Homo sapiens: one gene and its partners. The protein of the gene in region 3 interacts with the protein of the main gene of each other region in a biochemical or structural test. Each region holds a gene or a part of one and is shown on either strand. Other genes may lie near its edges. The genes, in order: HAX1, CFLAR, BIRC3 and SPHK1.

The links.
Region 1: the proteins of BIRC3 (region 3) and HAX1 form a complex in vitro, tested with the Homo sapiens proteins (one study listed by BioGRID).
Region 2: the proteins of BIRC3 (region 3) and CFLAR form a complex in vitro, tested with the Homo sapiens proteins (one study listed by BioGRID).
Region 4: the proteins of BIRC3 (region 3) and SPHK1 form a complex in vitro, tested with the Homo sapiens proteins (one study listed by BioGRID).

The regions. Positions count from the first base shown.
Region 1 is NC_000001.11:154,268,688-154,275,653, reverse strand, and holds the start of HAX1 (HCLS1-associated protein X-1), read right to left. Parts: upstream 3,026-6,966; 5' UTR 2,931-3,025; coding exon 2,878-2,930; intron 2,319-2,877; coding exon 2,056-2,318; intron 1,881-2,055; coding exon 1,693-1,880; intron 705-1,692; coding exon 653-704; intron 501-652; coding exon 394-500; intron 262-393; coding exon 171-261; intron 39-170; coding exon 1-38. Other genes in the region: UBAP2L (ubiquitin-associated protein 2-like), read right to left, coding at 5,359-5,454, 6,242-6,292, 6,700-6,897. UniProt on the Homo sapiens protein: Recruits the Arp2/3 complex to the cell cortex and regulates reorganization of the cortical actin cytoskeleton via its interaction with KCNC3 and the Arp2/3 complex. Slows down the rate of inactivation of KCNC3 channels. Promotes GNA13-mediated cell migration.
Region 2 is NC_000002.12:201,126,146-201,133,173, forward strand, and holds part of CFLAR (CASP8 and FADD-like apoptosis regulator), read left to right. Parts: exon of another isoform or gene 1-3,375; intron 3,376-3,583; 5' UTR 3,584-3,720; coding exon 3,721-4,001; intron 4,002-6,635; exon of another isoform or gene 6,636-6,883; coding exon 6,884-6,989; intron 6,990-7,028. UniProt on the Homo sapiens protein: Apoptosis regulator protein which may function as a crucial link between cell survival and cell death pathways in mammalian cells. Acts as an inhibitor of TNFRSF6 mediated apoptosis.
Region 3 is NC_000011.10:102,334,477-102,339,924, reverse strand, and holds the end of BIRC3 (baculoviral IAP repeat-containing protein 3), read right to left. Parts: intron 3,960-5,448; coding exon 3,705-3,959; intron 3,166-3,704; coding exon 3,124-3,165; intron 3,017-3,123; coding exon 2,823-3,016; 3' UTR 522-2,822; downstream 1-521. UniProt on the Homo sapiens protein: Multi-functional protein which regulates not only caspases and apoptosis, but also modulates inflammatory signaling and immunity, mitogenic kinase signaling and cell proliferation, as well as cell invasion and metastasis.
Region 4 is NC_000017.11:76,380,715-76,387,626, reverse strand, and holds the start of SPHK1 (sphingosine kinase 1), read right to left. Parts: upstream 3,019-6,912; 5' UTR 2,821-3,018; exon of another isoform or gene 2,522-2,820; coding exon of another isoform or gene 2,458-2,521; intron 2,350-2,457; exon of another isoform or gene 2,177-2,349; coding exon of another isoform or gene 1,983-2,176; coding exon 1,973-1,982; intron 1,685-1,972; coding exon of another isoform or gene 1,643-1,684; coding exon 1,490-1,642; intron 1,407-1,489; coding exon 1,312-1,406; intron 1,235-1,311; coding exon 1,119-1,234; intron 822-1,118; coding exon 41-821; 3' UTR 1-40. UniProt on the Homo sapiens protein: Catalyzes the phosphorylation of sphingosine to form sphingosine 1-phosphate (SPP), a lipid mediator with both intra- and extracellular functions.

The DNA of each region.
Region 1 (6,966 bases), on a different chromosome or scaffold from region 3:
GGCATCATCCAGGGCTGGAGGTCTTGGTGATTCTGGATCTAAGGAAGAAAGTCATACACGTAAATAGGCTAAATGAAAGAGACTAGGCAGAAGCAAAGGACAAGGGTAGAAGAGTAAGATTTCCCTTCCCCAAGGAATCTTGAGATGAACCCCTTTGTCTTTTAACTTACCACCCCTAGGACTGCTATCTGCTTCGTGTCGGGTTACTGTAGTCTCTGTCCGGCCCTCACTGTCCACCACAGTCCGGCGCTCCTCCACTATCTACAAAGAGAAGTCCCCACCATATTCCGAATGTTACTAAAGGTTATGCTCAGCAGTTTCTTTACACAGATCCCTGTTTCAGGGCATTCGTTCCCTGGCCATACTTTCCTTTACCTCTTTCTTTCAACTCACCCCATCTGGTTTAGTGATCTTGGTCACAGAGATGCTCTTGAAATAGGATTTGGGCTGGGGCTGTAGAACCGGGCCAAGACCCTCCTGGGAAACCTGGGAATCAAGATCTGGAAGAGCAGAGAGATGAAGAAGCAGGAGAGAAAGAGTCCAAAGGAAAAAAGGAGACAAGTGTACAGGAAGAAACTTCAGGGAGGGAGAACACACAGAACTTCAGAAGAATAACAAAAGGCTGGTAAACTTCCCCTTCCTCCAGACTTACCATTGTCCTCTCTGGTTCTAGGATGGGGGTCCATAGGCCATACATCATCAAACTGCAGAAGAAACCATAGTAAGTGAAAAGACTCCTTCCAATCTGAAATTTGAAAGGTCATAGACCTCAAACTACTCCCGAGCTCCAAAACCCCCTTCCACAGAAGAGATAATTCCATTCAGAATAGCCTTATTTACACACTCCTTCCTGGCTGTTTTATGTATCCTTCTACCAGAAAGACTTCCTGAACTGATATATTCCTATCCTCTGTGCACAATCCTGCCTTATCCAAGAATTATCTAGACCAGTGGTGTTTTTTTGTTTTTGTTTTTTAAAAGAAACAGAACACCCATCTCCCCCCAAAGAAAATCCCACAAGCTTAATATAGAAAACAGAAAACACTAAATGGAGGGCTTAGGATTCCAACCCAAGGCTATCAGATTCAAACAAGAATTGCAATCTTTGGCCAGGCATGATGGCTCACACTTGTAATTCCAGCACTTTGGGAGGCCGAGGTGGGTGGATCACCTGAGGTCAGGAGCTCAAAAGCAGCCTGGCCAACACGGTGAAACGCCATCTCTACTAAAAACACAAAAATTAGCTGGGCGTTTGGCAGGCGACTGTAATCCCAGCTACTCAGGAGGCTGAGGCAGGAGAATCACTTGAACCTGGGAATTGGAGGTTGCAGTGAGCTGAGATTGTGCCACGGCACTACAGCCTGGGCAACAGAGCAAGGCTGGGTCTCAAACAATTTTTGAGATGGAGTCTCCACCTCCTGGGTTCAACCAATTCTCCTGCCTCAGCCTCCTGAGTAGCTGGCATTACAGGCACCTGCCACCATGCCCGGCTAATTTTTTGTATTTTTAGTAGACACGGGGTTTCACCATGTTGACCAGGCTGGTCTCCAACTCCTGACCTCTGGTGATCTGCCCACCTCGGCCTCCCAAAGTGCTGGGATTACAGGCGTGAGCCACCGCACCTAGCCAGTCTTTGCACTTTATTAGTGGTCTCTCACAAGCTCTCACTTCAGGACCAGATGGGATACTCACCCTATGAAATGGCCTCTGGGAGCCCCAGTCTGGTGCTGGTTGGGGGGATTCACTTCTTGCATCACTCTCCAAGACCCCCCCAAAGATCCTGGGCTGGTGACTATCTGGATACTTAAGCATTGAGTCCCGAAGTGTCTGTCCCTCCCGTAGTCTCTCACCAGGTGTCTCTGACTCAGGACCTGGAAGTTCTGCAGAAAGGTGGCAGGTGTTTGCTGGGATGGGAAAGGACTTGGGCTCTATTAATCTCTCTGAAATCATCAGTCTTCTCACACTTCCCATCCCCCAGCTACTCCCTGCAGGCTCTTTATTTCACCCACCAACCCACCAGAAACCACAGGTTGCCCCTTAGGGAAAGCCACACACCAGGAGGATGGGAAGGCAAGGTCCAGGCCCCCATATCGCTGAAGATGCTATTGAAATCTCGTACTAGGTCATCAAAGCCGAAGTTATCGTGGAAACGTATCCCTCCTCCTGGGCTGAAGCTGAAGCCGAAGCCAAATTCCTCAGGGGGGTGCTGAGGACTATGGAACCTTGGGTTCCCACGGCCCCATGAGCCCCCTTCTTCTTCTTCTTCCTCATCATCATCTTCATCTCGAGTCATCCCTCCAAAAAAGGGATCTCTGTGGCTGAGAGTGGAGGCAGATTGGCCACCAATATTTCAGCACTATTTAAGCCATTAAATCAACTCATGGGTGGCAAAGTGGGACAAGAGCAAGGGGTCTGGGAAGCTAGGGAGAGGGTCGGAGGACTGGCTGCCACATCAAAACATTAATACAATGGCTGACAGTTCTTTTTTTTTTTTTTTTTTTTTAATCAAAGTCAGACCTCAGCTCGCAGCTCCCTTCATACACCTTCCCCCAGTTTTTCTTCAGTGTGCCCCAGTCCCTCCTCTCTCTCCCAAGGTCCTGCTCACTTGCTCACTGTCTTATTCCCCAGACCCTCACGGTCTTCCCCGCCCGGGTCCCTGTTGCATCACCCCAGGTTGGAGAAAGGCTTAGTTTGCTGTTTCTCCTCTTAATGACCGCCTTGGTTACTGTGGCGGGGTGAGTGTTCAATGTTGCGACTTCTGTCCTCTCTGCAGGAGTTGAAGGAGTGGGACAGAGGATGTTTTTCCAAAAATAAGACGTAGGGGTCAAGCTCCCCTCAGACGACCCCCACCCTTGTCCGAGCCGGACCTACTCTCACCTCCGAGGTCCAGGAAAGCCGAAAAAGCCCCGGAAGAGATCAAAGAGGCTCATTCCCGTACTGGGACGCGAACCTTTGAACCCCTCCAGTGGTCCATTCGCAGACGGGGGAAACCTGCGCAGCCCTGTGAGAAATTGAGCGAGGCGTCAGCCCACGCTACCGGAAAGCAAGCCCGCGATCCTGACACTGTCGTAAACGACGGTAAGCCGGACGTGAAATGGAGGCGGGACCGAAGGTCTTCCTCAAATTTGAAAGGCTTTATCTTTACCCCACCTTTCAGAGACCAGTTTCCGTGACGGGAGTGGGCGTGACGCACTTTCAGTTTCCTATGACCGCCTTCCTCCTAAATCTGTTCTTCTTTCTGCAGACCAACTCAGTACGAAAAGCGATTTCGAGGGTTTGACTCTGGATGGCACCCGGATAAAGCCGCCAGAGGGCAGCCCAGCCGCACAAATGGACCGGCTTGAGGGCGTCCCTCAACCACCCCACCCGCGGGGCTGGCCAGCCTCACAGCAGAAGCCACCTCGCTCCTTACTCGGGCGTTCTTTTTGACTGACCTGGGCGATGTCTGCTGTTAGAGGGATGAACAAAATGCTTTTCCAAGCTCCTTCTAGTATTGAATTTCCCAGAGAAGAGATCAAGACATAAGAGACGCATGGACTTAACTTCCTCCACCTCTCTAGCTACTAGGGAGTTTGTTATAACTATATAGAATTCTTTTTTCTAAGCAGGCTCTGCAACCAGCAAGACAAAGGATTTTTAAGAAAGCAAGGGAAGGGAAGCTAGTTGAGTCCTGAGAAGGAACAAATTGGGGGTTATAAAGAAATATCCCTTTGGTATCTTTTTTTTTTTTTTTTTTTTTTTTTTTTTGAGACAGAGTTTTCTCTCATGTTTCCCAGGCTGGAGTGCAGTGGCACCATGTCGGCTCACTGCAACCTTCGCCTCCCAGGTTCTCTCCTGTCTCAGCCTCCCGAGTAGCTGGGATTACAGTCATGCGCCTCCACGCCCGGCTACTTTTGTATTTTTTGTAGAAACGGGGTTTCACCATGTTGACCAGGCTGGTCTCGAACTCCTGACCTAAGGTGATCCGCCCAACCCAGCCTCCCAAAGCGCCTGTCCTCATTCCTTTTTAAAAGTGTTTTGTTCAAAACCTCTCCGAGACCTGTCTCTCCCTGTACCCCATCCCCAAGCCAGACCTTGCTCTAGATTCTTTTTCAAAGAATTGGGTATAGCTATGTCACAGAGAAGCATCCAAGAAGCCACTACTACAGTAGTCCATTCCTAGGGGGAATGGGCCCCAAGGTTTTGTTTTTTTATTTCGTTTTTGGGGTACAGGTGGTGTTTGGTTACATGGATGAGTTCTTTAGTGATTTCTGCGACTTTAGCGCACCCATCACCCGAGCAGTGTACACTGTACCCAATATGTAGTCTTTCATCCCTCACCCCACTCCAAGATTTAGTTCTGCCAGACGATACATGTTGCCTTCACTTCTTTTTAGTTTATTTGCCTGGACCCATCTAAGTCATACTTAAAACTCTATAAAGCATTTTTTTTCTTTGAAATGGTCTCAGCTCCTTCTTGATCCTCTCCATTTTCCACCCAATCTCCTCTATCCCTCTCCCTTTACTGCCTGAAATCGGCTGTAGATGTAGCAGTTTCTGGAGGAAATGAAGATTTGTGGTGGTTCTTTCCAGTCACCAGGTTGTGAAAGTCTTAGGGGTGAGGGGAAGGAAATCCCCTCAAGGACAAGATACTACTACCACATTAAGGTCAGGAGTTCTTAAAGGGCGAAGATTTCATTTTATTCCACTGCCTTCAGGGGCCTGCTAGAGGAGGCCCAGTTGGTACAGTAATACTTATTCACCAAGCTGGTCATCGACGAAATTGAGGATGTCCTAGACGGAGCAAGAATAGGCAGAGGCTGAAGGTAGAGGTTTTCTTTTTATATATACAAGACACATTAATCCATTAAATTTGAGGACACAGTACAAAAAAAAAAAAAAAACAAAAAAAAAACCACTTCAACTAATTCATCTGACAATGCTGTTCATATTCATGACGCCATTTTTTTGTTTGTTGTTGTTGTTGTTTTCCTAATAATAAAGAAGGAGACTTAGGGCTGTTGGGCTGATATATGTTTGGGGGTCCCACCTCCCCGCCTCATCCGTACACCACCAGGGTGAACAGGAGGAAGCAAAGGAAGTGCAGGGCCCATAGCAAAGTTTCATAATCTTGAATGCAAGAGGGGAGAAGGAATGGAAGGGGGAAAAAAAAGGAGAAAATACAAATCCTATAATACATACAACAGGGTGGGGATGGTATAGGAATGGGACAGACATGAAGCTGAGGCATGGGGTGGGCCGCTGGGGGTGGGGGGCAGCGGAAACCCCCCACATTCCTTTCTCTTTGATGCTGTTTCCATAGTTTCCAGGCTGAGAAGCCCTCTCAGAAGATGGGACCGGGAGAAGAGGGTCAGGGCCTCAGTTGGCCCCCCAGCTGTAGCTGTTGTAGGCAGACTTGTTGGTCTGGGGCTTCTGCGGGATGGAGCTGGTCTGGCTACGTTGCCCGCTGCCCGTCTGCAGGGGAATGGGAGGATCATGAGGAGGAAAAAGGTGTCTAGTTAGTGGTACAAATTTGTAACATCTTCAGGTGGAGATGTGCAAACTGTCTTGCTCTCCCATTCCCCTCACTACTATTAGAACCATAGAAAATTTGGTCTGCATAGCTGCTAAAGCCCCTTTCTTACAAGCAGGAAGGCATTTTTGACTTTTAAATAGGGAAAAGATGAAGAGGGCAAGATACCTTTAGAGACAAGGTAGTGAGTGAGTTCTACTCATTTTCAATTCTACATTCTCACACTACCCCCTCTCTCCCCTGCTCTTGGAGATGGGTGATCACAAGGCAATTTCATTTCCATTGATCCCCATTAATGCCTCAATTTGGAAAGCTGTCTTTGAGGAAGGAAGCCCTTATTCTAGCTCCAGCCACCTATAATGGAGCTCTCAAGAGGCCACTTGCATCGCCCCACAGATCCCCACCCCTACCACACATCACATCTGTGAGCCCATTTCAGGCAGGTATGAGAGGCAGTCTGAGGCCTCAGGCTCCAGATGCTGCCCCAAGAATCTTTTCCATTCTGGTAACCGAATGTTTTCCACAGCTGGGGAAGGGTACAAAGATAAAGAGGGTGTTGGGGAGGGGAGGAGGAGAGAGGAAGGGGAGGCCAGAGAGCTCAGCAAGGTGTTTGTGTTTGTGTATCCCGATTTGTGACCGCGCAGTCTTTTCAAGTTCCCTGAGGCTGTGAAGGTGAAATGGGGACTGAAAAGGAGTGGGTTCAAGCATATGATCATTCAATTTCATTACCTGCTCCTCCTGCTGGCGCTGGCAACAGAGAATCATCTGCAAATATGGTAGCTGAGGCAGAACCAGGATATATGGAAAATAAAGGGACAAACTTTGACAATAGAACTCCACCATTAGAAGGGAAAGCTAAAATGTCAGGGAAGAGGGAAGGCTGGGAGAGGAAAGAGGGAAGGTGTGACCCAGGTCTGATGGGATGAGGACAACTGTGGCACAGGAGGAGAAGGGCACCAAAGGAATTGGGCAAAAAAGGTTTCAACCCGGCCCTTCTCTGAGATTTCCTTTGCCGGCCGCTCGTGTTATGTGCGCTTGTGTCTGTATGTGCTGTGTGCCCATGACTGGCGCTGGGGAGGGATTGGGTGAAGGTGGTGGTGAGGAAGGGTAAGAAAAGGAAAGGGAAGGCAGTTTTAAGGGATAGGAAGGAAGAGGAAGGGAAAGGAGAGAAGGGGAAGGGCTATTACCTGGCCATCCTGCTGCAGGTGATGGTGAAGGATCTGAGAATGCGGCTGCTGATGGGGGGTCAGAATGTGCATAAAGGGGGCAGGTGGGTAGGCAGCAGCTGTGGCCGGATTGATGGGGCCCCCACTTCCTAGGGCTGAAGGCAAGTTGAAGGAAGCAGCAGGAGTACCGGAATGAAAACCTTGTTTCTCAAAGGACTGCTATCCAGGAGGCCAGGAGGAGACAGAGTAAAAGGGATCAGCAAACTAGTCTTGGGATTTTTCCTGAGC
Region 2 (7,028 bases), on a different chromosome or scaffold from region 3:
TCGAAGAAGGGGCTAGATTTTCTTTTATACTTTGGTTTAGAAAGGGGAGGGGGGGGTCTAGTTAAAACAATTTTACAGAAGTAAAGTAGGCAAAAAAGTTAAAAGGATAAATGGTTACAGGAAAGTAAACAGTTCCAGGTGCAGGGGCTTTAAGACTATTACAAGGTGATAGACGCGGGGCTTTGGGCGTTATCAATCTGACGAATTCCTGAGAACTGCGGATATTGCTGGCCACAGTATCTTATCAGTTAATTGCATTCTTGGATGTGCTGGGAGTCAGCTTGCACAAGTTAAGTCCTTGCGGAAGGGCTGCCAGTGAAACAGCCAAGATGGAGTCTGTCTGGCTCTCTTAGCTAAGGGAGAGTCAATTCAGGTGAAAACAAGGCTAAGTGATTAAAGGAAAGGGAGAGTCTAAAAACAGCGTTAGTAAAAACAAGGTTGGGCATTACATGATCACTGGGTCTCCACTGTCAGAGGGTCTTTGAGCTCAGTTCTAGTGGCAGCCTCCTGATCCTCACTTCCCTGGCTGAGGCAAGGTTGTTGCAGCAGCCCCAGGAGTCTTTGTTAGAATCCCACCCCAGAGCTCCTTCCTCCAGTCCTCTCAGCAGTTTTGTTAGTTCCAGTATTAAGTGTAATTTCTACAAAAAATGCCTGGAATATTTCTGTTTCCAGAACCGGATGCTCCTGTTAGCTAGTGTGTGAAAGATAACTCTGACTTGCCTAAGCTTTGTTGATGTTTTGAATAATAATTGGCGATAGTCTCTTGACTTCTGCAAGAGAAATGAAACAGAAATTGGTCTCAAGTTTTAGTTGCTCTTGTGAAGGTCAGGGACAGTTTGTACCAGGGTGTGGGTGTGGAAAAGAAGGGGAGATATAGTCATTAAATTAGAATATGCCTGTGAGGGGAGTTAAGGGGAATTCCTTTAAAATTCTAGAAAACACACACAGGTGCCAATTTTGTCTGGCTAGGGAAAAGTAAACTGCTGAAAACACTTGGGGGGAGAAATGAAGCTAATGGTATCTTGATCAGTCAGGAGGATTGGGTATTTGAAAGCAGGGAAGAAAAATAATTGGACTTGGATATTCCTTTGCCCCTTCATCTGAGTAAGGTGAAAGCAAGTGACTCTTCAGAAGAGGCGAATGGGACACTGAGTCCAGCAGCTCAGGCAGGGTGGAGTTGGTAACTGATGGGCACAAGTCTTTTACTGGGCTCTAAAGAACTCATTCATCTGGGTGTGGTGGCTTACACCTGTAATCTCAGCATTTCGGAAGGCTGAGGTAGGAGAATCACTTGAGCCCAGGAGTTTGAGACCAGCCTGAGAAACACAGTGGGACCCTTTCCCTACAAAAAACTGAAGACCTTATGAGCTTCCCTAGTCTAAGAGTAATTTTTATGTTAATTTCTTGGCTTGGGCTTAAACCCCAACAAAGTGGTGATTATTCGGACCCCAGCCCTACCTCTCCCTAGTATGCTCTCCTTTCTCAAGTACTCACCACCTCTAGCCACAGTGAACTGCCTCCAGCATACACACACGCTGCTATTTTGTTGCATCTGAGTGGGCTGGCTCCACACGGGATCTGTAGTTTCCTTTTGATATTTTCTTTCAATGTGCCAGATGCTACCACTGAGTAATCTAGATTTTGCTGCCAAACTCTACCCCCGTTAGCACAGAGGGAAGACAGTATGCCAGTGCTCTTGCTGAGTGTGCGTGACTGGCAGAAAGCAGTCATGGGTGTGATGGTTGGAAGAAACAAACTGAGCAGATAATGTTTTTTAAAATGATTATCTCATTTTGTTAACTCTTGGTGGCATTGTTATATTGTTGATACTTATGAATTACAAAAGTTAGATGACTGTAAAAAAATAGAGAATTAAGCATTTCATTTCTAGTAGTTCTGTTTGGTTCTTTTTCAAATATGTCAGTGAATTTGTATAATATCTCATTTCTTAGTCTTGTGTTTAATGATTTTATTTTTGTGTTTTTATAATTCCTTCTACTGCATATATTTTATACTTTAATTTATAATAACAACTGTTGACAAAATTGTGACTATTCATTAATACAGTAGAAAAGAACTTGGCCTCCTTTTCATGGAAGCTGATGATGAGATTAAAGCACTGTTGGCCTGCGAGTGGAGTATAGATTTGGGCTGTCCAGAACACATAAAATTTGTATTTATCTTTCTGATAAAAAAAAGTAAAATAGTCTGAGTGCCAATTTTTCCACTTTCATTGAGCACATTTAATTTTAGTAAATTTAACTTAGCAAATTTAATTTCTCCAGTTATTTACAAATAATCATATTTAAGTGAAGTTGGGATGAATGGGCAAGCCCATTTCAAATTTCTAACCTAATTTTTCCTCTTGTTTTCATATAAAATTTTTCTATTTATGTGTTTTTATTTTAAGATAGCTCAAATCTTTTGTGGACTGATACTGTATGTATATAAATAAATGGATTCAGTGCTTCTTTCACTAAATACAGCTAGATAAATATATAAATATACTTGAACACAAATACAAAGCAACCATTGGCAATTTAGAGTTGGGTTGTGTTTCCACTTATTTTTTGTTAATAAATTTGATTTTAACCTGAAATATTGTCTTGTAGGAACAGATAAAGAACACAAGAGGTGATTTAACATAAGTTTTAGCTGTGAAACTTAGAGTAGATAGGTTAGCAACTTAAATTTTGAAAGAAAATAGGATGAGTTTCAATGGAAGAAATTAAGAACACACCCATTGCATGAGCTCCTTACCCCTCCTACCCAGCCCCCTCCCAGGAGTGAGATCTTTCCCCAGATCCTCTGTAACTTCCAGATGTTCCACTGAGAACATCAGAAGCACTAATGGCAATTGCTGCCATGTAGCAGTGCATTGAGAGTCAGGGCCTCTGGCACCTCCATGGGGCTCAGGGTCTGAAGACGTGATCCAAACCTGACAACTTGGTGGCAGGTTCTGTGAGCATTCATGATGTTGTGAAAAGGGCTTGGGGTCTAGGAGGATGGCAGCAGAGGTTTCTGCCCTCAGGTGTGAGTGAGGGGCTTTTGAAGTAGGAGAGCAACTAGAAAAAAGGAGTGGCACAGGGACAGAAACTTCTTTTCTCCATTGTTTGTTCAAGGCCACGTGGGTGGAGTCATTGAGGTGGAGGTTTAACTCTGTGACATAAGTTTCCCTGATTTAGTCAGGCTGTCTGTCGTTGGGCTTTTCCCACTTCCTTCTACTACGTACTTCTTCCCTATTCCTCCTACTGAGGCCATTAAACCCTTAGTTGTAATTTTCCCTGAACATGCTTTACATTCTGATGAATTCTGAAAAAGAATGTGGGGTTTCCTTGCAGATGAGTTCATCTGTTGTTTCATTTCCTTTACAATGTAGGTTTTCTTCTCTGTCTTTTTGGATTAGTCTGTTTTTGGTTCTGTCTACCAAGGATCCCTTTCTTTAGACTTCTATAGATCCCTTTCTATAGAACTTAATCTACTTAAGTCAGGGAGACCACCCAGAAGGAAAGAGCCCATACTTTCAATCTTAGGCATAAGTTAGCTTGATAAGATTTTCAGAAAAATTCCCTTTTAACCACAGAACTCCCCCACTGGAAAGGATTCTGAAAGAAATGAAGTCAGCCCTCAGAAATGAAGTTGACTGCCTGCTGGCTTTCTGTTGACTGGCCCGGAGCTGTACTGCAAGACCCTTGTGAGCTTCCCTAGTCTAAGAGTAGGATGTCTGCTGAAGTCATCCATCAGGTTGAAGAAGCACTTGATACAGATGAGAAGGAGATGCTGCTCTTTTTGTGCCGGGATGTTGCTATAGATGTGGTTCCACCTAATGTCAGGGACCTTCTGGATATTTTACGGGAAAGAGGTAAGCTGTCTGTCGGGGACTTGGCTGAACTGCTCTACAGAGTGAGGCGATTTGACCTGCTCAAACGTATCTTGAAGATGGACAGAAAAGCTGTGGAGACCCACCTGCTCAGGAACCCTCACCTTGTTTCGGACTATAGGTAATTCATCAACTCTTCCTGAGGCTGGGTGGGTGGGAGGGAGTGAAGTGTCTCAGACTCTACTGAATGGCAGAAACGAGGATAATAAGAAGTGCAGCCACTTTACTGTCTCTGCCCACTTATCCAACTGCCAGATGATGTCACTTCATTCCTGTGAGCCCTTTAAATTCTTGAAACTTGTTTTCTTGCTTTCTTTTTCTTTCTTTCTTTTTTTTTTTTTTTTTTTTTTTTTTGAGACAGAGTCTCACCCTGTTGCCCAGGCTGGAGTGCAGTGGCGTGATCTTGGCTCACTGCAACCTCCGCCTTCTGGGTTCAAGCGATTCTCCTGCCTCAGCCTCCCAAGTACTTGGGACTACAGGCGTGCGCCACCATGCCTGGCTAATTTTTTTTTGTATTTTTAGTGGAGACGGGGTTTCACCATGTTGGCCAGGCTGGTCTTGAACTCCTGACCTCAAGTGATCCACCTGCCTTGGCTTCCCAAAATGCTGGGATAACAGGCATGAGCCATTGCCTCCAGCTGAAACATGCTTTCTCAAAGGAATTGGGATCATATGCAGGTAGAAGGGCAGCTGGTATGTGTTTGCCTGAAGGATAGAATGACAAGACGTGAAGAAAGATAGGAATGACTAAGAGCTAGTCATTCTTGCCAGCCTCTGACAGTGTGAGATCTGCAGCAGTGTTTACTAGTTCATTTTCTGTGAAGTCAGTCCTTGATAATTTGTGGTACAAAGAAAGGAAATAACAAGTCTGACAGTAATCTTCCTACCTTTGTAGAGACTCCATCATCCCTTCTGAATCCCTGTTGGCCCTACCCTGCTGAGGAAGTTTATCAGGGTGGGCTCCCTTCCTGCACTTCCTGCGCTTGGAGACATTGGAGAGCCCACATTGAAAATCTCTTCAGTTAACCACATTTAAGTCCCTTCAGTCCAAAGAGGAAATGGCCACTGGAGTCTGCTTTAGTTCCCACAAGCTTTGGGTTGCTCCTTCCTCCTGTTCACATGTTAATGTCTTTAGAGGTTCAGAGGGGCATGGAAGCTACTGAGAGACTGACTTCCTGGGGAAAGGAAGATAACTTGTAACCTTAAGTTGGTGTTTTCTTTTTTTTTTTGAGACAAAGTCTCGCTCTGCAGCCCAGGCTGGAGTGCAGTGGTGCGATCTTGGCTCACTGTAACCTCTGCTTCTGGGTTCAAGTGATTCTCCTGCCTTAGCCTCCTGAGTAGCTGGGATTACAGGCACGCACCACTATGTCTGGCTAATTATTGTATTTTTACTAGAAACAGGGTTTTGCCATGTTGGCCAGGCTGGTCTTGAACTCTTAGCCTCAAGTGATCTGCCCTCCTTGGCCTCTTAAAGTGCTGGGATTATAGGTGTGAGCCACCATGCCCAGCCGGTGTTTTTTCTCTCGACCACCAGCCTTTTATTATGTTGATAATGTGTATTTGGAGATGATAATTATTATCAAGAACTATACTAAAGAGAGCTGAAAGCAGTGTGGGCTTTGGAAAGTATATGAGATTTGAACTTGGAAAGCCTGTTTTTTTGGTTTTTGTTTTTTTGTTTGTTTGTTTGTTTTTGAGACAGGGTCTTGCTCTGTCATCCAGGCTGGAGTGCAGTGGCATGATCATAGCTCATTGTAGCTGGAAGACCTGTTTCAAGCCTCAGATCTACCAATTATGGGCCAGGCAGGCTGGGCCAATCACTAACCTTGTTGGGCCTCTGTTTTCCTACTTGTAAAGCGAAAAATAATAATACCTGACTTTACAAGGTTGTTGTGAGCATCAGTTGTAATAATTTACTATGTGAAGTACTTTTTAAACTGTGAAGCACTCTACAGATAGAAGGGATTATTATCATTGTTATTATTATTATTTTTTTAATCTTCCACCTATTCAGCCATCAGTTTTAATGTCAGTAATCTTCAGACTTTCCGGGAGGCACCAACTGAGTTTCAGTGAATAGGGCAATCTCTCCATTTCCCATTTCCTTGCTATGATGAGTGGAGATTCTTCAGGCCCTCTGGGAAGGGTTGCGGGGGCAGTTGAAGAGGAGTGCTAGATTTATTTATTCATCTGGTGAGTGGGCTTCATTGTGTATTGGTGCTAAGTGTTTTGGTAAGCTCTAGGACAAAATGAAAAGTCTGCCATCCTCAAGAATCTGAGAGCCTAACTGGGAAAATGGCCTTGATGACAATGTCATGGTAACAATACTAACCACAGGGTGTCCTTAGGAGCCCCAGAAAAGTGTGGTTGTTGGTTCTCAAAGTCTATTTCCTAGGGGGGGAAAAATATATATATATATATATATATATAGTGTTAGCTCCAGCCACCAGTGAGTCAGGAGAGGCTTTCTAGGCAAAGACATCTAAGTTCAGAATCCTTGTGATCCAGATGCCTGTACCCTTTGAGTTCAGAGGTGGGCCAGGGTATCTCAGGTATTTCTTTCCTTTAGCATCTTGCAATTCAAAATATGGTCCTTGAATCAACATCACCTGAGAGCTTGTTAAACAGAGAAGGCTACTTCAAATTCTATTTCTGTCTTTTATGTTAGTCATTTGGGTTCTTAAGTCATTTCACTGTAACCTCTGGGGGAGCTAGGGGATTCTTTAAGGAAGTTTCCATTCTCTGAGTTGTTTTCAGAAACTGTTAGTTGGCAAAGGATGTACCATCTCCTATTAAACGGGCAAGGACAAGTTCCCTTTTCTGAGGTCCCTTAAGATCTCTTCCTGGGGTGATCTAGGCTTGCTGTTTTATGAGGGAGGGACATATTTACACAGGGGCAAGAACTAGTCTTTTAATCCATTGTTGCATAGGGGAGGCGTGGGCACTTGGAGTTGTCTTAGGACTGATGTCTGAATTAACTAAATGAACTTGTCTGGTTTGCAGAGTGCTGATGGCAGAGATTGGTGAGGATTTGGATAAATCTGATGTGTCCTCATTAATTTTCCTCATGAAGGATTACATGGGCCGAGGCAAGATAAGCAAGGAGAAGGTGAGTTTTCTTCTTTTGGTTCATGGCCCCAGGAGCCTA
Region 3 (5,448 bases):
GGAATTTTCTTTCTTTTTAATTATTTATTAAGACATGGTCTTACTATGTTGCCCAGACTGGTCTTGAGCTCCTAGACTCAAACGATCCACCTGCCTTGGCCTCCTAAAGTTCTGGGATTACAGGTGTGAACCACTGCATCTGGTCTTGAATTTTCTTAGTAACATACATAGTGTCTACTATGATGTGCAAGACAACAAAAGGAGGTGACATCTTCTCCAATAGGAGCTGAATATGGTTCAATCACATTGCCTGTGACCACAAAGGAACTTAATGGCTAATGGTATCAAGCGATATAAGGAAATTAAGAGAAAGGTTGGAATGGAAGCTATAATGAGCATGGCTGAAGTATGAAATTAAGCCTGCTGCAAAGTCCTGTATGATCACACTTAATATATTGAGGTTTAAACCCAATGACTGAAGACCACGTTGGCTGGTAGGTGGGGTTGGAGGCAATCAAATGGATTAATGCATGTCAAGCACCTGAAAACATCTGACATTTGGTCAGCAAATAGATCTACCATTATTATCTATGGTGATTTATTTTTTCCAAAACAAAATGTCAAAATAACACTTAGGGAAATAACATATTTGAATAAATGGGTTGGTTATAATAGCTATTTATTACCATAATGAGAAATGAACAAAAGTTTTACAGTGAGATGACAAAGTTCAAATATTATCTGTAGTATACAAGAACTAGATAAAAAAAAAAACACATGGTGCAAAAAGGGTGCCTACTATTTAAATACCCTATACCTGAGTTACAAATCACCTAAGCACAATTACAAATAATTCAGCCTAGCACCCATGCAGGACACTGGCTAGTACATGGGTAGCCAGCAGAGCCTCTTAGCAGAGGCAAAATCAATTGCATTTCAAGGAAATAAGTCTCCCAGCATCAGAATGCAGAGATGGATTCTTTCCTCCCCTCACTTGGTCCCTAATTGTTCTCTTTACAACACTAGCAGATGTTGGGGCTCAGAAAACCCAAAGTGAAGGCCTCAGAAGCAAAGTTTTTCTCTGATGTTATCCTGCCCTCCTGTCTCAGCCTCATTCTCCCTGAAGGCAAGCCACAGAAACTTGAATTCCTCTTCCCCAAGGTAGGTCATAGAAACTGGAACCATCTTTCCACAATGCCAGACTTACATCTTAAAGATAGTACTCTAATCTTTCCTCACCTAACTATGTAAGAGCTGGCCATAAATAAATTCTCTGACCTACCTTGCTTGATAGCAGGTTATAATATCCCCATCCCATACAGGCCCTGCCCTATATCCAGGAGGAAGGAATGCTGCACAGAGACCAAGAATAATCTGAACAGACAGGCCTTGCTGGGTCCCCAACCTGTGTCTATTCCCATTAGATCATATCCTTTTTTTCCAATCACTATTCTTCAGGGCTGTCCATTCATTATCAAACCTAAGCATAAAAATGCACAGTTTCCCCTGTAATTTTGGATCTTCATTACGAAGGCTCCCCGGTGATGTAAATCTGTGATTAAATAAATTTGTTAAGTTTTTCTCTTGTTAACCTGTCTTTTGTTATAGGATTGTCAGCTGTGACCCTTATGAAGGGGTCTTTCCCTTCTGCCCTTACAGAGCCATCTGCCCCTATACAGACATCTAGAACTGGTTTAGATGACTAGCCTTTGCCTGCCTTCCCCTGAGTATTCCCTATTACAGTCTTACTTCTGCTCTTGAAGACCTAATACCTCTATAAGAAGCAAAGGACAGAGTTATGACTCGGACGTGTTGAGTACCAATAACATAATGCAGAGGGGGACATTTTGTTGCACTGACAATATGAAACAGATTTATTTACCAGAACAACCTGTTGGTCCCAAGCATTGCTAACCAGTGTACTTTCTAAGTTTCAGAATTAATACCAAAGAGATAAGAATAAAACTCAGACCTTCTTCCAATAGGTGGGGCTGGCATGAGACTTCTTGAATGAATCAATAGAGAAGTGAATAAACAAACTTACTAAAGGGACTGTTTGATTCTTGTCTCAGGCATTCCATAATAGATTTTATGATGTGTTGACCCCGTGTTCTACAAGTGTCAATGAAGAAGCATCTTATGGGAAGGAGTATAAACTGTAGTTCAATATTTGAGAGGCTTTAAGAAGGTATGGAAAGAGTCTGGGAGTGACTAAACTATCCAATGTCATTGAAATAAAGCAATGAAGAATAAGAGTAATTTTTGTTGCTTTATTAAATTTTTTCTCACAGAATTCTTTATAAAAACACCATGTCCCTAAAATGTCATTCAACATATATGCACACCTTCGATGTATAGGACACTGATCAAAAAAGACAGAGAAATGTGTCCCTGGTGTTTTGTTTTTGTTCTGTTTGTTTTTAAAGGCAGGGTCTCAGTATGCTGCCCAGGATGGATTCAAACTCCTGGGCTCAAGTAATTCTCTTGCCTCAGCCTGGGACTACAGGCACATACCACCACACCTGGCTTCATGTTCCCGGTATTAGTACAATGCCAAAATATTTAAAATTCTTAAAGGTTAACTCAAATATCTTAAGTTTTACTTCACTTACAATTTCAATAATGCTGAAATTTTGATTGAATATTGTGTTTGTAGTGCTACCTCTTTTTCGTTCATAAGAACAAAAGCCTATCATTCTCTTAGTTTCTAAAAAATATATGTTCATATGGTTTAGATACATATATAAATATGTTACACAAAACAATGTTTTTTGAGTTGTAAATAAATAAAAATTTTAAGGAAACCAAATTAGGATAAAAGTTAAAGTTATAATACATTTAATAAATTAATTCTAAAGTTTAGACGATGTTTTGGTTCTTCTTCATGAAAGAAATGTACGAACTGTACCCTTGATTGTACTCCTACAAATAGGACACTTTCTTAAAGAAGGAGCACAATCTTTGCATACTACTAGATGACCACAAGGAATAAACACTATGGACACTTCTTTGTCCATACACACTTTACATGTTCTTTCTTCTTGTAGTCTCCGCAATTGTTCTTCCACTGGTAGATCTAGAAAGAGGAAAGAATTTTTAATAAAAGGCAGTTTGCTTCTTCAGTGAAAAACTAAGAAAATAAAGACAATGTTCTCTATTGATTTAAAATATTAGTACTATTACCTGAAACATCTTCTGTGGGAATATATTTTATGTCCTGTTGCACTAAGGGAGAAAAAGAAAAAGCATTACTATGACAAATAAGGTTAATATTTAGCTATGGAATCTATTTTAAAAATGAACACTTTAGACTATAGCCAAATACTCATTTCAAGGCAACAGAAGTCTTTAATCTTTTTATGTAACTAATATCTATAAATTAGATTGATTTTTTTTTGAGACAGAGTCTGTCACCCAAGCTGGAGTGCAGTGGCACAATCACAGCTCATGGGAGCCTCTATCTCTCAGGCTTAAGCCATCCTCCCACCTCATCCTCTTGAGTAGCTGGGATTACCAGGCATACACCATCACAAATAATTTGTTTTAAAAATTTTTTGTAGTGATGGGGTCTCGCCACGTTGTCCAGTCTGGTCTCAAACTCCTGGGCTCAAGCAATCCACCTGCCTCAGCCTCCCAAGGTGTTAGGATTACAGGCATGAGTCACCACATTCAGCCTGAATTATTTTCAGTAGTCATAAATTATTAATAAGAGCGTATTTTCAATTGACTTAGAAAATTTTTAAAAATAATTTTCTATCACTCACCAAATAAATGCTCATATAACACAGCTTCAGCTTCTTGCAGAGAGTTTCTGAATACAGTGGCTGCAATATTTCCTTTTACTAAAATCGTATCAATCAGTTCTCTTGCTTGTAAAGACGTCTGTGTCTTCTGTTTAATAACATCATGTTCTTGTTCATTAATAATTCCGGCAGTTAGTAGACTATCCAGGATTGGAATTACACAAGTCAAATGTTGAAAAAGTGCCATTCTATTCTTCCGGATTAATAATAAATCATCTTTATAAAAAAGAAAACAAGCATAAACATGTTCAAACTCTGCTCACAAACTTCCTTCCAGTCCTATATATATAGCAGGATAAAAACTATCTTTAATTCGTAATCAGTAAGGCATTGATGTTGATTGCTAGGTTTAGGGGTGTCTCATCTCCTTTGCTTAATAATAATGTTATTATAATTATAATCCAGGGTGCAGTGGCACATGCCTGTAGCACCAGCTACTTGGGAGGCTGAGGTAGGAGGATCACTTGAGCCCTGGAGTCAGAGACCAGACTGGGCAACATAGCAATACCCTGTCTTAAAAAAATATAATAATAATAATAATAATGCTACTTATAGTAAGGACTAACATTTAGTGAGCACTGTGTTAAGAACTTTACATGTATTGATTCATTTCATCTTCACAACAGCTCTTTGAGGTAGGTCCTAATAGCCTCATTTAACAAATGAGAAAATGAAGCTGCAGTGAGGCAATTAAGTTGCCGAAGGACACCACAACTAGCAAAAATCAAACTGAGGTAGTCTGGTGTCATGTACTGTGCTTTCAATCATTTGGCAATACTGCTAAGCCTTTAACCAAATGGAACTTAGAACCCATTAAAATTGACGTTTCAATTCAATCTAGTCAAATTGGGGAAAGACAAAATCAAGAGAATTAAAACAATTTTTTCTTAAAGTGTCATTCTTCCATAAAATTTCTTTTATTATTTATTTATTCATTTTTAAAACAGAGTCTTGCTCTGTCGCCCAGGCTGGAGTGCAGTGGTGCGATCTCAGCTCACTGCAACCTCTGCCTCCCAGGTTAAAGCTATTTTTGTGCCTGAGCCTCCTGAGTAGTTGGGATTACAGGCATGTGCCACTACATCCAGCTAATTTTTTGTAGTTTTAGTAGAGATGAGGTTTCACCATGTTGGCCAGCCTGGTCTCGAACTCCTGGCCTCGAGTGATCCGCCCACTCCGGCCTCCAAAAGTGCTGGGATTACAAGTGTGAGCCATTATGTCCGGCCCATAAAATTTCTTTAAAATTCCATTTTAAGTTGAAATTTTAATTATTTCCAGAAATTAGACATATTGCCATTACCTAAATATTTTATAGTAAGCAGGGAAAGGCAGTAACAGCATTTTGAATAATAAACCCTATTTGTCAACGACTACCTTCTCGTCCTACAAGATATCATCTAATTCTCCTTCAAGACCTAGATTTTGTATCCATTGGTAAAACATTTTATATTTTAAAACTGCAGTTTTATTATCTCTTTGGAATATAACTTATGAATCTAAGTTTATTAATTTTCATATAGCTTACCATAATCCATAAAGCTGTTTCTAAAAAATAACTAATGACAGAGGCTGAGCTATCTGAAGAATTGTTTTGGGAGAGAGGATTGTTAGATTTTAGATACACTGACTTTGTCAAGTGATAGGACTCATAAAAAGAACCATTTAAGAAAGAATAAAAAATGGAAAAAAGAAAACAGCAAAAATCAAA
Region 4 (6,912 bases), on a different chromosome or scaffold from region 3:
GTCCTGCAAGTAGACACTAAGGCACAGCGCGGCCCAGGGGTCATAAGGGCTCTTCTGGCGGTGGCATCTGCTGGGGCTTCCAGCTGGGCGGGGGCTCCACGCAACCGCTGACCATCCAGAAGTAGTTTGGGTGCACCTGGCCCTGCACGGCCTCGCTAACCATCAATTCCCCATCCACTGCAAACACACCTTTCCCATCCTTGGGCTCCAAGCGGAAGGCGACCACGGGCACATATACCAAGTAGGGGCATTCATACTCCATATGCCTGCCCTTCTCCATGGCCAGGAAGAGGCGCAGCAGCATGGCACGAGACACTCCCGCCCGCACGTAGAACAGATGCATGACGCCAGCTGCACAGCGGCCCATGGGTGCAGCAAACATCTCACTGCCCAGGTGCGAGTGCAGCAGTGCCAGGACTAGCACAAAGTCCTCGTCGGGCACCACTGTCCAGTGAGAGGGCACTGGCTCCTCCAGTGGCACAAGGTGTGCATCTACCGGGCCCTGCTGGACCACAACGGGGGAGGCAGGTGTCTTGGAACCCACTCTTCCTACAGGGAGGTAGGCCAGTCGGCCGCGGTAGGTGCGCAGGGCTGCCAGACGCAGGAAGGTGCCCAGAGTGAAGCGCATCTCCCCCAGACGCCGATACTTCTCACTCTCTAGGTCCACATCAGCAATGAAGCCCCAGGCCAGGCTGAGCACAGAGAAGAGGCGCAGCCCCGAAGCCGTGTGCAGAGACAGCAGGTTCATGGGTGACAGCAGCCGGCGGCACAGCAATAGCGTGCAGTTGGTCAGGAGGTCTTCATTGGTGACCTGCTCATAGCTGCAGGGGGAAAAAGTCAGATAAGGCAGGACAGGAGCCCCCATGTATCCCCCGCTTCCTCCTCCCGGGGAGTGGGAGCTGGCAAAGCGCCATGTGGTCCCTGGGGAGTTGGCAGGACTGGTAGGTGACAGATGGAGCAAATGGAAGCAGTCAGCTGGGGTCACCAGGAGAGGGCCCCAGGACTAAGGGAGAAGGGGAAATGGAAATGATCTCAGCCTATGGGAGCTTAGACAAGAAAACCCCCGCGGTAGAGGAGCACTGACGGGAAACAGGCCTACTCTGGCCCTGGGCTCTCACCCAGCATAATGGTTCAAGGAAGCTGCCAGCGCGTTGCCAGAGCCTGCTGGGAGGCTACACAGGGGCTTCTGGATGGCGGTCTCCCAGTCAGGCCGCTCCATGAGCCCGTTCACCACCTGTTGAAGCACACGTGGCCTCAGCCTGGGACGCACCGCGCCAAGCCCCAGGCCTAGCCGCGCAGTGCGGTCCTCACCTCGTGCATCAGCCCGTCTCCAGACATGACCACCAGAGCGTCCCAGCGGCCCAGCTCCTCCGACCGCACCAGCTCCCGCGCGTGGTTCCGCCGCTCTGCAGGGAGACCGGCAGCTATCAGGACTGGGGGGGTCCCCTGCCAGGGGATGCTCCCGAAACCCCCTCCGAGAGGTACTCACCAGTGAGCATCAGCGTGAAGGAGATTTCAGCCTCAGCCAAAAGGGGCTGCACGTGACTCCGGAAGAGCTGCAAGGCCTTGCCCTTGCCGCCGCGCGGGTTCAGCAGCACCAGCACGCGGCAGGGCCGCGGGAGCACGCCCCGGGGGCCGCCCGCTGAGAAAACAAAACCAAAGAGGCCACGTCCGCAACCGACCACTAGGGGGCCACGGGTAACAATGGGGCACTAGTGTGGGAACTTGGTGCCCGAAACACCCCGGTAATTGACCCTGGCCAGAGGAGCGGCCTTTGCTGGGAGACCTGGGGTGGGGACGCGGCGCCCCTGCCACCCCCTTCCTTGGCTCAGATTCGGCCGGCTTCTGGCCTCGTGAGGGATAATGTTTCTCCCGATCGTCCACAGCCCCTTTCGTCCAGCTGGGCGTTCCATCATTCCTGGCGAGGAACAGGAATCCCCCTACAGCCCTTCCCAGCAGGAACCCCACAAACCTGGATCCATAACCTCGACCCGCGGCTCCCGCTGCCAGGGGGTCCCTGGCGCTGTGGGGGCGCTGCCCGTGGCGGCGGCTCCTGCCTTCAGCTCCTTATCGGTGCTGCCCAGGCGGGCGTCGCAGGGCCGGCTGTGGGGCTCGCCTTCCCCGCCCGGAGCCGTGGCTGCAGGAGCACCGGCGTCATTCCCTGCGGCGGCTGGACCTGAGGGAGAGAAGACAGCGCTGGCGGAGTCCGGGGCCGCAGCTGCCAGAGGTGGGGAGCGCCCGACTAAATCCCGGGACCACGCGCGGGGAGCCAGGTTCCCGGGAAGTCCAGAGAGCTGAGGTCCGGTGCCTCCGAGGGCGCCCCCGCCGTGTGACTAAGCCTACAATCCCTGAGAAGGGCGCCTGCTCCGGGGCTTTCTCCCTGGGGCTTGGGGTTCGGTTCCGGCCCGACGGATGAGTCAGAGCCCCGTGGCTCCCTCCGACGGACTAGCTCCTCACCCCTCGGGGCTGCCAGGGGGAGGGGAGTCCAGCTGCGTAAAAATCCCAGAACTTGAGCGGACATTGCTGGGCACGAAGTTCTGGGAGAGGATCCCTGCCCCAGCCATCCAGGTTGCCGTGTCCCCTGCCCGGAGCTCCAGAGCGGTGGGAGCCGCGGCGCGCGCTTCTCAGGGCCCCGCTCCGTTGCGACGCGCGCGGCGCTCGTGGGAGCCGCTCCCGGGTCGCGCCAAAGCCAAGCCCGAACCGGGCCACCAGCTGCCGCCTGCTCTCGCCCAAGCGACAAGTGGCCCAGTTCCCGGGGCCCCGCGAGGGCGGGCCGCACAGGAGCCACGAGCGGCGCGAAGGCAGGGTGGGCGGCCCTACCCAGTCGGTCCGGTTTGCTGGGGAGGCGCCACCGCCGTTCCCTACAGTGGCCTGGGGCGGAACGCAGCTCGTCCCAAGCTCAGCCCACGTCTGAGGGACTGGAGCGCCCCGCTGGAGCGGACTCCCCGGCCTCGCTCCCTCCGGCCTCAAACTTTTCGCTCAACTTCGCAGCCGGCGCCGCGGAGCGGGGAGGGCACTGAGCCTCGGCGCCGGCCTGGCTCCGCCCCGCGCTCCCGGGGGTGGAACCTGAGCCCGGCGCGGCCTCGGCCTCTGCCCGCCTCCGGCCTCAGCGCGCCGCCTCCGGCACGGCCCGCGCCCACGGCCGGGCCACGAGCTGGTTCCCGCCCGGGTCCTAGGAAGCGGCAAGCGCGCCCCCGCCGCTCGTCCTAGGCGTCTGGCTAGAAGGCGGCGCCGCGACCTGGCCGGGTGAGCTGAGGCGGCAGGCCGCGAGGCGCGGAGTCCCGGGCCCGGCCGCGAGCGCAGTGTCTGGGGCGCGCGAAAGCGACCGCGCAGCGCAGACGGAGGCGCGGGCTCCGCGCGAACTCGTGTCGGAGCGAGCGCCGGGCGCGCGCGGCTCCGCTCTCCCGGGGGACCCTTGGTTTCACCTCGACGCCACGACCTCGCCCCCGCGGGTGCTGTCGGCGCCGGGATGCAGCGCCCCTTTTGCGCGCTCTGCCCTAGCCCACCCGAAATTCGAGGCCCGCACGCCACCCGGGGCGCCTCTCCAGGCCGGGGCGTCTCGCCCGCCGCCCACCAGCTTCCCTCTTTCTTCCTCCCCCGCGCTCCCACGGAGGTTATTTTTAACTTCCCGACGCTGCAGCTGGGCTACCGAGCCTGAGGCCGCCTAGCGCGCTGTCCCGGGTAGAGCAGGCGACAGGCCGGGGGCTCCGAGCCGGAGAGGAGGCTTGACAGTGTAGATGGGCCTGGGGGCCCCCGTCGGGATTGGAAAGCCAAGCATGTGGTACGTGCCCCCCGCCCCCTCTGGCTCAGCGTGAAGAAGGGGCGCCGGAAACGCGCTCAGAAGTTGTCACTTCTTTGGAGGCCAGTAGGGACGCGTTTGTCAGTGTGTTTGTGATACACTTATCGCGGCAAGCCACAGAACGTGTCCGCGAGCACCTCGAGTTAGATCCCTGGGGGGTTACGGCGGAGACGGAGGAAGAAGTTGCCAAGGCCCATTGGTGACCTGCCCAGGTAGGGCCAGAGTTAGGAGAAACCAAGCCCCTGCGGGAGGCTGCGGGGCTCGCGCGCCCCCGCCGGCCCCACCCGCCCCCACACACCTCTCTCATCGCTTCTTAAAGTCGAGAAGAGGCAGGTCCAGGAGGAGCACGCAGCCAATTAGCCGGGCGGCGCCCTGAACTCCGGCACGCCTCCGCGGTGTCTTCTCTTCCGGAGGACCCAGGCAGCTCGGCCCCGTTTCCCAACACTTGGGGGGTCAGACGGGCGGGACCCGAGAGTCCCCGGGCGGGTCGGGGGGCACTGGCTGGGACGCGGGGTCCCTGGGGCCGCAGCTCCGCGCGCGTATCGGCGGGTGCGCCTTCGCCTTGCGCGGCCCCCGGGCAGTCCCCGCTGGGTCCAGAGCGTCCCGAGCGCGTTCCGGGAAGGTGACTCAGCGACGCGCTCAGGGGTCGAAAAACTCCGAGAAACAGGAACGAGGGGAGGGAGCAGGGGCGTCATCCCCGACTCCTGGCGTCGCGGCGCGTGTCGGAATGATGGGTCCTGCACCTCCGAGCCCCCCACCCCCTTGCTCCAGGAATCCGGCGCGGGCGGGGGAGAGAGCCCTGCAGCCGCAGTGCCGCGGTCATGCGCTGCGGGGACGCGAGCGGCGGCTGTGGGAGGAGGGGGCTCCGCGCGGGAGCCCAGGACCAGATCCGTCCGCCCCTCCCCTCTCCTCTGCCTTCTTCCCCTCCTCTTCCTCCAGCGAGGGACTTTGGTGCCTAGAAAACGCGAATCGGAGGCTGTGCTCCCCGAGATCTCAGCCTTCGAGGGTACTGGCTGCGGAGATTAGCTGGGGCAGCCTTCCCCGTCTGCTCCCCGCCCCGGAGAGCATTTCCACCAAATCTGAAAAGCTCTGTCATTAGCCATAGAGTCTGAAGAGGGGAAACTGAGGCACAGGGAAGCACTGTGAGTTCGTGGTGATAAAGCCCACCTGGTTCAGGGTCCCCCCTTTTTTTTTCCTCCTGGGGCCCCAGAAAGGTCGGATCCTGCGCCTCCAGGCCCACTACCACCAGCCTTGAGTCCGCGGAGCGGGCGGGGGCGGGGTTGACTGCAAACTGAGTTGGCAAGGGGAGGCGGGGCACGGGCTCTTTATCCAACGCCTCCGGGCCCCAGCTCCCCTCCTGGCTCTGGAAGGCCCCGCGGGAGGGAGGCGAAGGGCAAAGCCCTCTGGCCCCGGTTCCAGGCCGCACAATGGGTCCTCTGTCCTCCCTGGCGCCTAACCCCCTGCCCCCCTCACCTCCAAGGCCTTTGCCCCCCTCATTCTTGTCATTCACTTCCCCCAACCCAGGCTGCCTTTCTCCAGACCCCTTTCCCCTTCTCCCTTTCTAAAGAATTTGATCCTATCTCCAGAAACTCCCCCAGCTGCATCCCTGCTCAGAGAGGCAGGATTGGCCAAGAGCAAGATGGTTCCCCTTCCCACGGTTGCGGGTCGGGGGGCGGGCACTTGGATCTCTCAAGCTGCCAGCTTGGCCCGTTTCCCACTGTACTTTACTTCCTTTTTTAAAAAAGAAAAAAGGACAAGGCGGGAAGGAGTTGGGGGGGCCTGAAACCCTGAGAGGTGAAGAGGCTTGCACAAGCCTCCAACCAGTTCCCCACAAAGCAGAGAAGCAAACCTGTGAACCCAGACCCCACGCTGAGAAGCCAAGTCCAGCCAGAGCTCCCCTCTGGGCCTCTCTGTATCCCAGGCTATTTCTCCCTGAAGGGCAGGTATCTGGGGATCTGGTGCCTGGTGGATTGCTTGCCGCAGAGCTGTGGCGTCTCCCTGAGGAGGAGGAAGCAGCAGGCCGGGCGCAGTGGCTCACTCCTGTAATCCTAGCACTTTGGGAGGCCGACGTGGGTGGATCACCTGAGATCGGGGGTTGGAGACCAGCCTGACCAACGTGGAGAAACCCGTCTCAAACCCCGTCTCTACACCGGGTGTGGTGGCGCATACCTGTAGTCCCAGCTACTTGGGAGGCTGAGGCAGGAGAATTGCTTGCACCCAGGAGGCAGAGGTTGTGGTGAGCTGAGATCGTCCCATTGCACTCCAGCCTGGGTGACAGGGCGAAACTCCATCTCAAAAAAAAAAAGAAAGAGGAAGCAGCTCCAAGCCCTCCCCAGGCTTCATCCTGAGTCTGGAAACAGCTGAGCAGCCGCTGTGCTCAGCAAGGCCCACCGTGGGCCTGGGAACAGGCCTGGGCCGGCAGAGAGGTCTGATTTGATCACCAACCCAGAGCTTGGCTTGCAGGTAATCTGCTTCACAGGTGGGAGACTTTTTCTAACTTCCCCAGCCTCCCCTTCCTTGTGGGCAGCCTCCCCAGGGAGACACACCTGAGAACCCCCTTTTTTCTTTTCCCGAGAAAGAAAGCAGGCATTCACCTGGCCTGGTCCCAGCTCTCCAGAAACTTGGAGTCAAGGCTGCCAGATGGCAAATTACTTGCTTTTATGAGGAGAGGATTCCTGCCATCTCACCCTTCCCTGAAGCTACCTTCCCTAGGAGATTTCAGCTCCCTAATTGCATAGCCTCAAGGTCTTCCTTGACCTCAACTTCTTTCCCTTTTTTTTTTTTTGAGACAGAGTCTCGCTCTGTTGCCCAGGCTGAGGCTGGAGTGCAGTGGCGCGATCTTGGCTCACTGCAACCTCTGCCTCCCGGTTTCAAGCAATACTCTTGCCTCAGCCTCCCGAATAGCTGTGATTACAAGTGTGAGCCACTGCACCTAGCTAATTTTTGTATTTTTAGTAGAGTTTGTGTTTCACATGTTGGCCAAGCTGGTCTCAAACTCCTGACCTCAAGTGATCCGCCTGCCTCGGCCTCCCAAAGTGCTGGGGTTATAGGCATGAGCCACCACTCCGGTTTTTCCCTTTTTATGGTACTTTACTGCCTAGGGGGTTGCAAGG